Regions from separate parts of the Homo sapiens genome. Here all the other regions are linked to region 1. The links come from fine-mapping of genetic effects on gene expression. A gene starts in region 1. Each other region holds a variant in brackets. All regions are shown on one strand. Distances are from middle to middle.

Evidence for each region. PIP is the estimated chance that this variant, and not a neighbour inherited with it, causes the effect.
Region 2: its variant is the best candidate, but not a certain one, in a credible set for the expression of TMEM252-DT in whole blood (INTERVAL, PIP 0.85).
Region 3: its variant is the best candidate, but not a certain one, in a credible set for the expression of TMEM252-DT in whole blood (TOPMed, PIP 0.59).

The regions. Positions count from the first base shown.
Region 1 is chr9:68,538,842-68,543,086 of GRCh38, reverse strand. It overlaps TMEM252-DT (TMEM252 divergent transcript), which reads right to left and starts at 2,062. Exons shown (of 5, transcript NR_187592.1): 1 at 1,857-2,062; 2 at 445-709. It overlaps TMEM252 (transmembrane protein 252), which reads left to right and starts at 2,204. Exons shown (of 2, transcript NM_153237.2): 1 at 2,204-2,550. The coding sequence starts at 2,273.
Region 2 is chr9:68,473,737-68,477,981 of GRCh38, reverse strand. All of the region lies in intron 7 of PGM5 (phosphoglucomutase 5), which reads right to left. Among named protein-coding and RNA genes, the nearest start is that of TMEM252, 65 kb to the left of the region's middle. The variant C/T (reference allele first, on the strand shown) is at 2,188.
Region 3 is chr9:68,624,355-68,628,599 of GRCh38, reverse strand. TMEM252-DT (TMEM252 divergent transcript) reads right to left here. Exons shown (of 5, transcript NR_187592.1): 3 at 2,753-2,959. LOC105376071 (a long non-coding RNA gene) reads left to right here. Exons shown (of 3, transcript XR_929902.3): 3 at 1,568-2,103. Among named protein-coding and RNA genes, the nearest start is that of PIP5K1B, 79 kb to the left of the region's middle. The variant C/T (reference allele first, on the strand shown) is at 2,499.

The DNA of each region.
Region 1 (4,245 bases):
TCCTGGGACCCAACTCCTAGTGCAGACCTTTCAGCTGGGGGTCCTGGGTCTTCCACAGATTTTTGGAATTGTAACAGCAATGATAATAACAATATTGGTGATGGTGATTATAGATAACCTTCACAGGGCACTCTCTGTGCCAGGTACTATGATAAATACTTAACATTGATTGTCTCTTCTGATTTTCAAAGTTCTAAGAGAATTTTTTTAGTTATCTACTGCTATCTAAAAAATGGCCACAAAACTTAGCATATTTTTAAAATATACTTTTTTTAAACTTTTGACCTCTTTTATTTGTTAAAATAGTGACATCCATAAACATGAAATGATTTGATCATAATGCATTCATTGATTATGGCTCTTGCCATCTTGTGGCATCCAGGACCCTGGCTGAAACGTTTTATCTCACAGTTTCTGTGGGTCAGGAATCCGAGTATGACTTACCTGGGTCCTCTACTTCAGGGTCACTGAGTCAAGGTGATGCTTGGGAGCAGAGTCATCTCAAGGCTCAGTGGGATGAGGATTTGATTGCAAGCTCACGTGGTCATTGACAGGATGCAGTTCCTCATGGGCTGACGGACTAAGGGCCTCAGTTCTTCAGTGACTGTTGGCCAGAACCTGCCCTCAATTCCTTGCCTCATGGGCCTCTCCAATATGGCAGCTTCCTTCTTCAAAGGGCGTAAGCCAAGAGGACAATAGAGAGAGTCTGCTAGAAAGATGAAAACCACAATCTTGTGTAGCCTCCACGGAAGTAACTTCCGATCACCGTTACCATATTCTATTGATTAGAATGAAGTCACTAGGTCCAGCCTACACTCAGGGGAGAGGATTACTTACACAAGGACATGAATATCAGGAGGTGGGATCCTTAGGGATCATCTTAGAAATATTCCATCTCACAGTTTGGGGAAGGAGGGAATAAGAGCTGTTTTAAGATTACAAAGACAATATCAAGACTAGAAGATCAAGGTAGTTCAAGGTCGAAATTGAAGCTAAGAAAGGTAAAGGCTAAGGGTTGGAATGGAGAAGTGCCTTATATAGTTTTTGATCCATAGTGTGTACCTCTCTAATATCCGTGTCTCCCAGCCCTAACATGAAGGTAGAGCTAAGGAGATGGTGAGTGTGAGACTAAAGGTTATATGAGGGATTATTAGGGCACGCCACAAAAAACTGCTGCTCTCATTGGGAAAGTAAATGGAAAATAATGGTAATGGAGTAGTGGAGTGGAACAGCAGCAAAGAGGAACTGAAGATAAGCTATCCTGAGTAAAAGCAACCCAGGGTTCCTATGGGAAGGAGACTTTTGGCAGAGACATGCCACATTATCAAATAAAAAAGGGCAGAGCCAGGGCATAAAGCACGTCTGAAATAAGCTATCCACAATCAAAGACAGTCAAGCTAAAGAAAACAAATTCCAGCCAGGAAACAGAAGGCTGGTTCTGGAAAGATTTTTTGAGGCAATGCTACATAGAGCAGAGGTGTGGAGGAGAGGACAGGGAACATTTTTAGCAGCATCCTCTAAAACGAATTCTATTTCATATGTACTTTATGAAAGGGGGAAAGATTGCAGGAATTACAGGCCCAAAATCCCCCCAAATTCCCGAGGCTCTGTCTATTATAGTCCTTTTCTCCAGCACTCTCCTTTCCCTCCCACTCAGGCTCTTTCGATCTTGTCAACAGAGCAGGAACCACGAAGTTCACACTCTGAACTTCTGTCTTGGAATTATGCCAGTATCATAGTGTGGGGGCAATAAGTGGGGATTCATTGAGGGAGGCAAGACAAACATGTTAACAGCCTTGAAGAAATGCCTTTTTAGTACAGAAAAAGGGAGAAGGAATCAGGAAGGGATTTCTTACCAAACCTCAAAGAAGATCGTTCTTTAAAGAGTGCTAACTTCTCCAGCTTTTAGTGGGGAATTGCCCTCCATGGGGATTAAGAGACCAGCGCCTTTTAATCAAAGGAGGGCTGTACGTTCAAATAACTGGGAACAGCTGAGTGTCCCACCCAACTCTGAAGAACAAAACAGCTACACGAAGCCACTCCTGCCTGCAGTATACAATGCTATGTTTTTTGGCTAATTCTCCAAGGATATTACACTTACTTTCAATGGTTAATGAATAGCTTCTAAGTGCCTGTTTCATTTAGTTGTCCAAAGGCCAGTGGGTCCCAGAGCATATAAAGCTGCAAGCTGGCTAATGAGCTCATTCTCTTGGAGCAAGCAGGGAAGCAGAGGAGCAGCAGGGTCAGGGTGCTGGGTTCCTAAGGTGCAAGGATGCAGAACAGAACTGGCCTCATTCTCTGTGCTCTTGCCCTCCTGATGGGTTTCCTGATGGTCTGCCTGGGGGCCTTCTTCATTTCCTGGGGCTCCATATTCGACTGTCAGGGGAGCCTGATTGCGGCCTATTTGCTTCTGCCTCTGGGGTTTGTGATCCTTCTGAGTGGAATTTTCTGGAGCAACTATCGCCAGGTGACTGAAAGCAAAGGAGTGTTGAGGCACATGCTCCGACAACACCTTGCTCATGGGGCCCTGCCCGTGGCCACAGTAGACAGGTACGTGCTGACAGGCAGAGGGACCAAGAAGGGCTGAGATGGGCTGAGTTGTGTAAGATCTGAGTAATTTCTGATCCTACTATGGAGCGACTTACATGTCCCATGGGCTGTCTGTCTAGAACCAAAGCTTTATTGTCAGGGAATTACTCTGGGGTTGTTATTAGGAAGAGTGGCGCCATCTTTGGGGAAAACCATGACGCAGGGGCAACTCATCTCAGAGAAACCCTACCACCACCCCCAGTGAAAACCCACCTAAGCCAATTTAGAAACCCAGGCTCTTTTGTTATATCATGGCAGCTGTCATTAATTAGTGGCAGGTGATGGTTAGTTACTTCCCATAACCTGGCTATGAGGTTCTAAGGAAAGCAAGTCCCAGACCAAATTCTGCCACACAACAAATGAAGAAGCAGGCATAAAATGAGTCCTGGAATCTCTGTGAGCTCAGAAAAGTCCCAGTTTACTGTCCTTTTAGGTGTTGTGATCTCACCTTGCATAAAACATTCCTTCAGGGGAAGGTGATAATATTCTAGAGGCAAGATTCATTCTTTCTCGCCATCTCATACATTAGGATAGTTATCATCAAAAAACAAAACCAAACAGCTAGTGTTGGTGAGGATGTCAATAAATTGGAACGCTGTGCATTGCTGGTGGGAATGTTAAAATGGTGCAACCACTGTGGAAAACAGTGTGGAGACTCCTCTATACATTAAATATTGAATTACTGTTTGATCTGGCAATTCTACATTCTGAGTTTATACACAAAGGAACTGAAAGCAGGGATTCAAATGGATGTTTGTACACCAATGCTTGTAGCAACATTTATTCATAATAGCCCAAATGTCCATCAACAGGTGAGTAGATAAACAAAATGTGGTATATACATGCAATGGAATATTAGCCTTAAAAAGGAAGGAAATCCTGGCACATGCCACCACTTGGATGAAGTTGAAAACATTATGCTAAGTGAAACAAGTCAGTTACAAAGGGCAAATATTGTATAATTCCACTTACATGAGTACTTAGCGTAGTCAAATTCACAGACACAGAAAGTAGAACAGTGGTCCCAGGGGCTGGTGGAAGGAGAGACTGGGGACCTATTGTTTAATGAGTAGAGAGTTTTAAGGTGATGGTTGTAGAGCAATATGAGTGTATTTAGTGCCACTGAGCTATACACTTAAAAACAGTAAATTTTATGTCATATATATTTTACCACAAGAAAAAAAAGATTCAGTTAATCTTATAGTCAGTATCAGGCAACAAGAAACCTCCTAATTCTTGGCTAGCCACAGGACCATTTAGGGATAACACCCTAGGCATCATTCTCAAGATACAGGCTACAAGACTATAATTATTTTGCCCTCTTCGTGCAAGAGTAGAAAGTATCTAAAATATTTTAGCTACTCCATGTATCTTGAATATAAGTAATCTTACCCATGAGCATCCACTTTTGGCATCCTTTATGCTAATTAATAAGATAATAATTATGAAAACCAAAACTTATTTCCAATGTTATACTAACCAGCAGAGTTTCTGGGTTTGATTAAAAATTAAGAGAAATGAAGTGATTGTAGAAGATGCCTCTAGAGTGATGATTTCTTTTTGTATAAATGTTAGAGGACTACCTCTAGAGTGTGAATTTCTGATAAATGTAACTGATTGCCTTTAGGATATAGCTTAAATTGACTAACACTGCAT
Region 2 (4,245 bases), 65 kb after region 1:
ATTTGTAAAATGGGGACCCCATCACCCATTTTGCGGCATTGTTGTTGTATCAACTTAATCAAGTTAAGAGGACAAGCTCTAGAGTTAGATTTCTCATGTTCTAATCCTGGCTCAGCCATTTACCTTTGTTTGCGGTACTCATCTGTAATCTATGGACAATAACAGCCCCTACCCCATGGGGTTACTGTCAGGATTAAGCAACTAAATATGCCCAGATGTTCAGAACAGTGGCTGGGATATCACATATCTTTGCTGTTGATCTTGTTGTTGGTAATTTTAATAAAGCTGTGTGAATTACTGCAAGGTGCTGATTCCTCAATACCTGCTTTCAGAAATTGTTCTTGGTTATTCATGTAATTTTATCCTCTCACTCTAGCAATAGTAATGTCTTAAGAAACAGGACTGGGTCCACAGAGTGGACCTTCTTGCAGCAGGGCAATGAGAATGGACAACAGTATTCTTGGGTTTCAGAACTACAAAACATACATGGAAAACCAACAAGGGAGACGCAACGCCACAGAGCTGTTTAACCCCTGAAAATGGGATCAAACAATACTTAAGTCAAACATCTTTGACAACTTCTAACTAAAGCTACAGACCATTTACCGTACTTGTGACATTTATGGTGTTAAATGTTAAACTTTTTTTCTCAATAAGGAAAACATGCAAACCTGAGGGGGGCTGTGAAGGTACTAAAATCAATAAGAAAAAGGGTCAGGTTTTTAGTTCTTCCTACACACTGATCAACGGTCTGCTAATGGCACTGTTGGATGTCCAGTTGTGGTTGCCTCTGGGTTAACAGGACCCTGGGCATTAATCATCACACCATGAAGTGTCTTTAGTCTTATCCAGTGAATTCTTTACACTGCTACAAAAATGGAAGAAGTTTGGAAGACTGAGTTAGCTCCATGGCCAACTGCCAAAAAACAAGTTTAGGAAACCCTGCCCAGTGGGATCACTTCAAAACCTTTTGTCCTTTTACAGCTGAAAAAAAAAATCACTTTTATTTACTGGCTAGAGAAAAATACCCTTTTGTTCTAAAACATGGGCTTTGCATACCTTCGAACTCCAGCTGGATTACATTACCTAGAGATAGAACCATTAGATGCTGTTAAATCTGTGAGATAAGATGTCATAATTTAGTGCTAGAGGGACATAAAGTTCTTTTAGGTGGATAAACAAAAAAACCCACCTCAACATTTGTAGCCAATTGCATAGTAAATTGTGAGTTGGCTTGGACATCCTTGCCTACAAGTTAAACATTTGCCAAGATTAATAAGGGGCTGATGATGAAGTAAAATTAACAATGCCCTTTATAGTTCTTTGAGTTTGGGACAGAGACATTAATGATGCTTCAATTACACAGATGTTTCCACTGGATGATTATAGTGTACTTTGGAGTGGATTTGGGGGCTATAACTCTCCTTTTAAAAAGGCTTTCAGGCAAGTGAACGCTATGCTGTATCAGTGACAGGCAGATTAAACAAGAAATTCCAGAAAGCACAAAGGTATCAAATGGTTTTCTAAAACCCCACTATAAACAGAGTAAAAATGGGAGTAGAAATGTTCACACTATATATATGACAGGGATAATAGGCTGGATATTTTTTTAATGTTTTCATAGGTCAATAAGAAAAAGAGAAACCTCAATGGACAATGGAATGAAAAGGCACAAGCATGCAATTGTCAGAGGAAAATAATAATAGTCAACATTGGAACAAATGTTCACCCTCACTGTGGTCAAAGAAAAGTGTGTAAAATGGGATACCATCTGGGGCCTGTCAGGTTAGCAAAGGTTTGACGGGGGAAGAGTTAACTTGGCAATAATGATCAACAGTCTTTAAAAATATCATGCAGCTTTCGACCCAGCTATTTTATTTCTTAACCTTAAGTCATAGGACATTCAATGAAGTAGATAAGAGAATAAAGAAAAATTGGAAAAATATTGTTTTGATTTTTCTGAGACAGGGTCTTGCTCTGTCACCCAGGCTGGAGTACAGGGGTTCAATCATGGCTCACTGCAGCCGCGACCTCCCAGGCTCAAGTGATCCTCCCACTTCAGCCTCTCGAGTAGCTGGGACTCAAGGTGCACACCACCATGCCTGGCTAATTTATTTATTTACTTTTTTAGAGATGGGGTCTCACTGTGTTGCCCAGGCTTAATTGTTGAACAATAGGATCATTGCA[C/T]AAAATTCATTCAAAACCTTGTGGGTAGACAAAATAAATCAAACAAGAATCTTTAGTAACACAGAAAACCATGTTTATTCAATTCTTTTCATTTTATTTTATTTTTATAGTTTCAGGAGGTACAAGTCCAGTTTTATTACATGGATATATTGCCTAGTGGCTTTTAGTGTACTCATCACTTAAATAGAAAACATTGTATCCAATAGGTAATTGTGCATTCAATTTTAATAAATGAAAAATCAGTTTACTAAAAAAGAATATTCAGTATATTTTTATAAAAAATATAGATATGTATATATGTGTGTACACAAGTAAACAGAAGAATATACACCAAACTCTTAACATGGTTATTATCTCTGAAGTGGTAGAACTGCAGATGCTTTTCCTCTCTTTCCTTTTAAATATTTTCGCAATAACAACGTATTATTTCATAAGAAAAAAATAAATTTTTAAAGTTGTTAGCCAGGCACGGTGGCTCACACCTGTAATCACAGCACTTTGGGAGGCCAAGGTGGGGGAATCACCTGAGGTCAGGAGTTTGAGACCAGCCTGGCCAACATGGTGAAACCTCGTCTCTACTAAAAATACAAAAAAAAAAAAAAAAAAAAAATTAGCCAGGCATGATGGCAGACACATCCATGTAATCCCTGCTACTTGGGAAGCTGAGGCAAGAGAATCATTTGAACCCAGAAGGTAGAGGTTGCAGTGAGCTGAGATCACACCACTGCACTCCAGCCTGGGCAAGAAGAGTGAAACTCCGTCTCAAAAAAAACAATAAATAAAAATAAAGTAAACAAAGTTGTCAATGGTGCATAGAAATTCACATTTAAAACATGCCTTTTCTAGAGTCATATAGTTGGGCTCATCTAGTATGTATTTTTTTATTGTCTTCTTTTGCTTAATAATATGCATTTATGGTTCCTTCATGTCTTTTTATGGCTTGAGAGTGAGTGTCTTTTTAGCATTGAATAACACCAGCACAATTTTTGAAGCTTGCTGCCTGGCTCAGGACATTGCAGGGAGAATATACCCATATTTCCAAAGCTGTAAGTACCACTCACCTTGCCTTTCTCATCCAACCTAGCCCAGCCCAAAGCCCACGCAATCTTACTCTGAGCAGCCCTGAGAAGCAGCCATCTCCATCCACATACCAGAAGGAGGGCGCTCAGCTCTTCTCTGCCATGACTCCAGCAAAAACTGGTACAAAAAAGAAGGCCTTTTTTTTTTTCTAGAGAAATATCACTGTTCCCCCTCCACTCAAATTAAACTTTGAATTTTCTCAATCTTCAAAACCATGCTACTTGAGCTAGGCAGGACACTAATAAGTATATTGCCCTCACAAAAGAAAAGGGAAAAATAAAGAGAATGCTCAATCATCTTAAAGATGTTTTCTTCACATGGAAACACCAGTATGGACACATCAGCTCAATAAAGCATCCCATGCATTACTAACAGATCAAGCCATTACAGCTGAAACTCAGATAAGGAAATTCTAAATTTGTCAATTAGGAAAACTATAAGTCAATTTGCACCTGTTGCCAACTCCAAGTTGTAACATATGTTGGCAATTTTCAACCCTGCACTGCACATTAGAATCACCCAAGGAGATTTTAAAAAAATACAAATGCTCAGGTCTCACCCTGAGCCAATAAAATAAAAACTTTTAATGATGGGGCCCAGGCATTGGTATTTCTTTTTTAAAAACTCCTTGGGTGATTTTCACAGGCAGCCGGGCTTGAAAGTCACTTGCTTCAGCAGAAAGGCACCGTATGCAGTCTCATGTTTGGGGCAGAATGCCTGGGGGTAGTGAGTGAGGCCTCTTCCTCTTTTTGCTTGAATGTGGTGCTAAGGGAAAGCAGCCATGGGTCTCTCATTTAATTCACGGCCCTGGCCTTGCTCACATGGGGGGGTTCTCACTGGAGTCAGCTTCAGTATCAAGATTTCTCCTTGCCATTTTCATCTGGAAAACTGAGGACTTTGCCAGCTTTGGAGTGACCAACTTATCCTGGTTTGCATGGGATTTTCCCACTTTTAGCACATAAAGTCCCACATCTCATG
Region 3 (4,245 bases), 86 kb before region 1:
TGTATAGGAGAAATGGTAGATTTCATAAAGATTGATGAAGAAATGTGCTCAGTAATGCAAGATGTTTTTCCAGAGGAGTCCCCCACCAACAATTAGCAGAACCAGTGCCATTTTCAATACATCAAGATCAACATCCTACACTGAACATTCTTAGTGACCCATAGTCTGGGTGAAGGTCATTACACTCTCAGGGATTTGAATTAGAACACAGGTAAAGCTAAAGAAAGTGGGAGAAGAACTTGGAATTAGAAAAAGCCCAGTTCAAAGATAATTTGTATTTTACTGACATGTTCAGCATAGTATGAACTCTGGCTCTGCCGAACATCCAGTCTGCCTCATGTACAAAAGTTGCTGATCCAGGGGCCGGGTGTGGTGGCTCATGCCTGTAATCCCAGCAATTTGGGAGGCCAAGACAGGCGGATTATGAGGTCAGGAGTTCGAGACCATCCTGGCTAACACGGTGAAACCCCGTCTCTACTAAAAATACAAAAAAATTAGCCGGGCATGGTGGCGGGTGCCTATAGTCCCAGCTACTCAGGAGGCTGAGGCAGGAGAATGACATGAACCCAGGAGGTGGAGCTTGCAGTGAGCCGAGATCACGCCACTGCACTCCAGCCTGGGTGACAGAGCAAGACTCTGTCTCAAAAAGAAAAAAAAATAAAATTTGCTGATCCATTGCAGGAGAAAGTTATAGAGAAATGTACTTCAATTGTATGCCCTAAATAAACTCCATGGGGCCCCATGTAAATGAAGGAATGGCAATAACTAGGAGTGGTAGTTGTTTCCCTCTCAGTCATTGTACTTTTGAATAGGAGTCATTGTACCAACCGTTTAACATATTCATATGTTCCTGGTACTAATGAGGTTGGTCTATTTTAACCTTTTTTGACAAGGAAGAAATGGCAGGCAGGCAGGTGTCCAAAGCACTAATCTATGAAAGGACAGTTTCCTCTGTGTTTGCAACAGGTGGAATGCTTCAGCCGATAGAACTGTATTCTTTGTTATGTTTCCTAAACAGAGCACAGTTTAGTCCTCAAATTTGCCAAGCAGGTCCATTTGCACACCTCTTGTTCACATTATTTCCTCTGACCATTCCAGTCAGAAACCATGAAATCAAAGTCACCTCATTTGTTTTTTGTTTGTTAGACACTTATGTAGCGTATCTTATGTGCCAGAGACACTTTTAAAGGAACAGCTCATTTAAACCTTGTGTTAGCTGTATCAAGTAGGGACCACTATTATCCCCATTTTACAGATAATGAAACTGTGGCACAGAGTGGTTAAGAAACCTTCCCAAGTCACACAGCAAATATGTGGAAGAGCTGATCCTCTTGACCGCTTTGCTATGTGCTCTTATCTTGGTCATGTGCTGCCATAACATGCATATCTTCGCTATACCATTGTTAATTCTTCTGATTGCCAGGGGAACATATTTTCCTACTATTCCCTTTATACATTTTCCTTGCTGTTCTTGTGCTGAGTTGGCATTGATATATCAGCCAGGTTTTATAAGTGTTGGGAAAGCTCGCCATGGTGTTCTGATTATAACTGCATGTGTGTCCTGCAGACCTGCTTTCATCCATCACTGATGCATGAAATAGAGCACCTTTAATACAGCACCTGAGACCCCAAAAAGTTAGGCCAAGTTGGTGCAAGAACACAAAGAACCATGGACTCGCTAATTTTCAATAGATGACCAACTGCCACCTGAACTTCTGAATGGGTTTTTCTCTGAGCCCACCTGATATGCTCTACTTCAGTGGGAGGTGGGCAGTGATAAGAAGTCAAGAAGACTTGAATTCCTGCCAACTGAGAGACAGCTGAAGGAAATGGGAACATTTATCTTGGAGAAGAGAAATATGGAGGCCTCAAGGACTGGCATCAGACAGCTGACTCGCTGCTATGTGCAAGAAGGAGTGGGCTTATCTTAAGTTGTCCAGAGTGCAGTAGAAAATGGAAACTCTGGGCAATCAGATTTCAGCTCAATGTAAGTGATTTCTCTCTATTGTTGTTTTGTAAATTTTTGAGAAAATGGTTTTAAGTGATAGAAATAGCAACATACTCTTTATAAAAAATAAAATCAAACAATAACAAAATGTCTAAGGTGGAGAGTAAAAGCCTCTTTTCCTTTACCCACTCCCACTCCCTAGGAATACCCTTGATATCTATCCTCCCATGTCCCCTATCTATGCACATGTAAACGTGCTATCCATACATATACATATGCCTACTACGTGTCCCTATAAATTTCCTGTATTTTTGTCTGTTTTCAAATATATGGCCATAAAATGGGTATATCTCAGAATGTAATGAACAAGAAAGGCCCTTTAAGAGTAAATTTCTGTGATTTCCAAATGTTATTTTACAGAGATGCCCTGCTGAAGGATCTGAAATATATGACTTTAGTTATTGACTGCAAATATTCAAGTTGTTCCACAATTTTAGTTAATCTGACTTGACTTTTTTTATTGAAAAAAATTTACCAGATACCTACAAAA[C/T]GGAAGTAGGCATTTTGTACTGATACTTATTCTTAAGAGAAAGGATATTCAAACAATTTAAGCTATTCAAAAATGGATGAGCTGCTTAGACGTTTTAGCCACTGGCTATGTTCAAATAGAGGCTGGTTGACCAGTTGGTTACAACGTTATAGAGGTGATTAATGCCACAGATGGGAAGGTGGGGAGAGTTGGACTGGGTGCTTTCCAAGATCCATTCAGTGCTCTGATTCCCTGACTTCCTATGCTCTGCTTACCTGGGCAGTGAAAGATTGCAGGTGGTGCCCTATGAAGAGGAGCAGCCAAATGGCTCCTGCTCCCCATGGCAAGAACCGCAGGTGCACACACAACCTGGCTGGGTCCAGGGCCACTCACTGACACGTGGCTGGTGGACAGAAGCGCCTGCAGGCAGTAATTCTTGTTCCAGCTGCTCTGTGAGCATTCGGGGCTTTCAACTTTGGTACCTGGATTTAAAAGAAAACAAATTCCTTTCTAAACACTGCAGGTTTGAAATTGAAGCTAATACTGTACATTCTTAGGAGCCTGGCAGTGCAGGAAATTACTCCTTCACCTGTTTCCTATTTTGACATTTCATTAAGATGGAATTTAGTGGCTAGAAAAAATAATATTAAAATATTTGACCTTAAAAAAAAACACTGGTTAGAGTCTTCAATGTTTAGAACTCCCTCGGCTTGTGCTTCTTTTCCTTTTGAAAAAAAATATATAACTCCTAGAAAAGTTGCAAAAAGAATATGTCAAACCCCTGTATACTCTCACCTACATTCACCAGTTATTGACATTTTGCTATATTTGCTTTCTCTATATGTACATTTATTATTATTATTATTGTTAGGAACTATTTGAGATAAGTTGCAGATATCATGACCTTTCCCACCTAAACACATTGGCAAGTGTCTCCTAAAAACAAAGACATAGTGCAATGATCAAATTTAGGAAATTTAACACAGCTTTGAATCTCTTACTGAATACAATCATATCCAAGTTTTGCCAGTCTTTCCAATATTGGGGTTTATAACATGTTTTCCCAACCCAGGACTTTGTATTTCTACATAGTTGTCATGCTTTTTTTTTTTTTTTTTTTTTTTTTTGAGACGGAGTCTTGCTCTGTTGCCCAGGCTGGAGTGCAGTGTGCTATCTCGGCTCACTGCAAGCTCCGCCTCCCGGGTTCACGCCATTCTCCTGCCTCAGCCTCCCAAGTAGCTACAGGCGCCCACCACCACGCCCAGCTAGTTTTTTGTATTTTTAGTAGAGACGGGGTTTCACCGTGTTAGCCAGGATGGTCTCCATCTCCTGATCTCGTGATCTGCCCACCTCGGCCTCCCAAAGTGTGGGGATTACAGACTTGAGCCACCGCACCCAGCCAGTTGTCTAAGAAGCCAGTTGCTTCTTTAGTCTCTTTTATTTGAGAATGAAAAGGCTCCCAATTTTTGTCTTTTAAGACACCAGCATTTTTGAAGAGTGCAGGCCTATTTTTCTGTAACATATCTCTGGGATTTGTCTGGTGTGAGATTCAAATTATGCACACACTGTGTCCTTCTCAGTGTGTCACATTAGGGGGCACCTGATGTCAGTTTGCCCCATTGGTGGTGAAGGTAACTTTGATCATGTGGTTAAAGTAGTATCCGTGTGACTGCTCCACTTCTGGGGAATCTCTCCCTCTTTAGAATAAATAATCTATGGGGAGGTACTGGTGGTGTCACCCAGATTTCTTCACTCTAAAACATTTTTC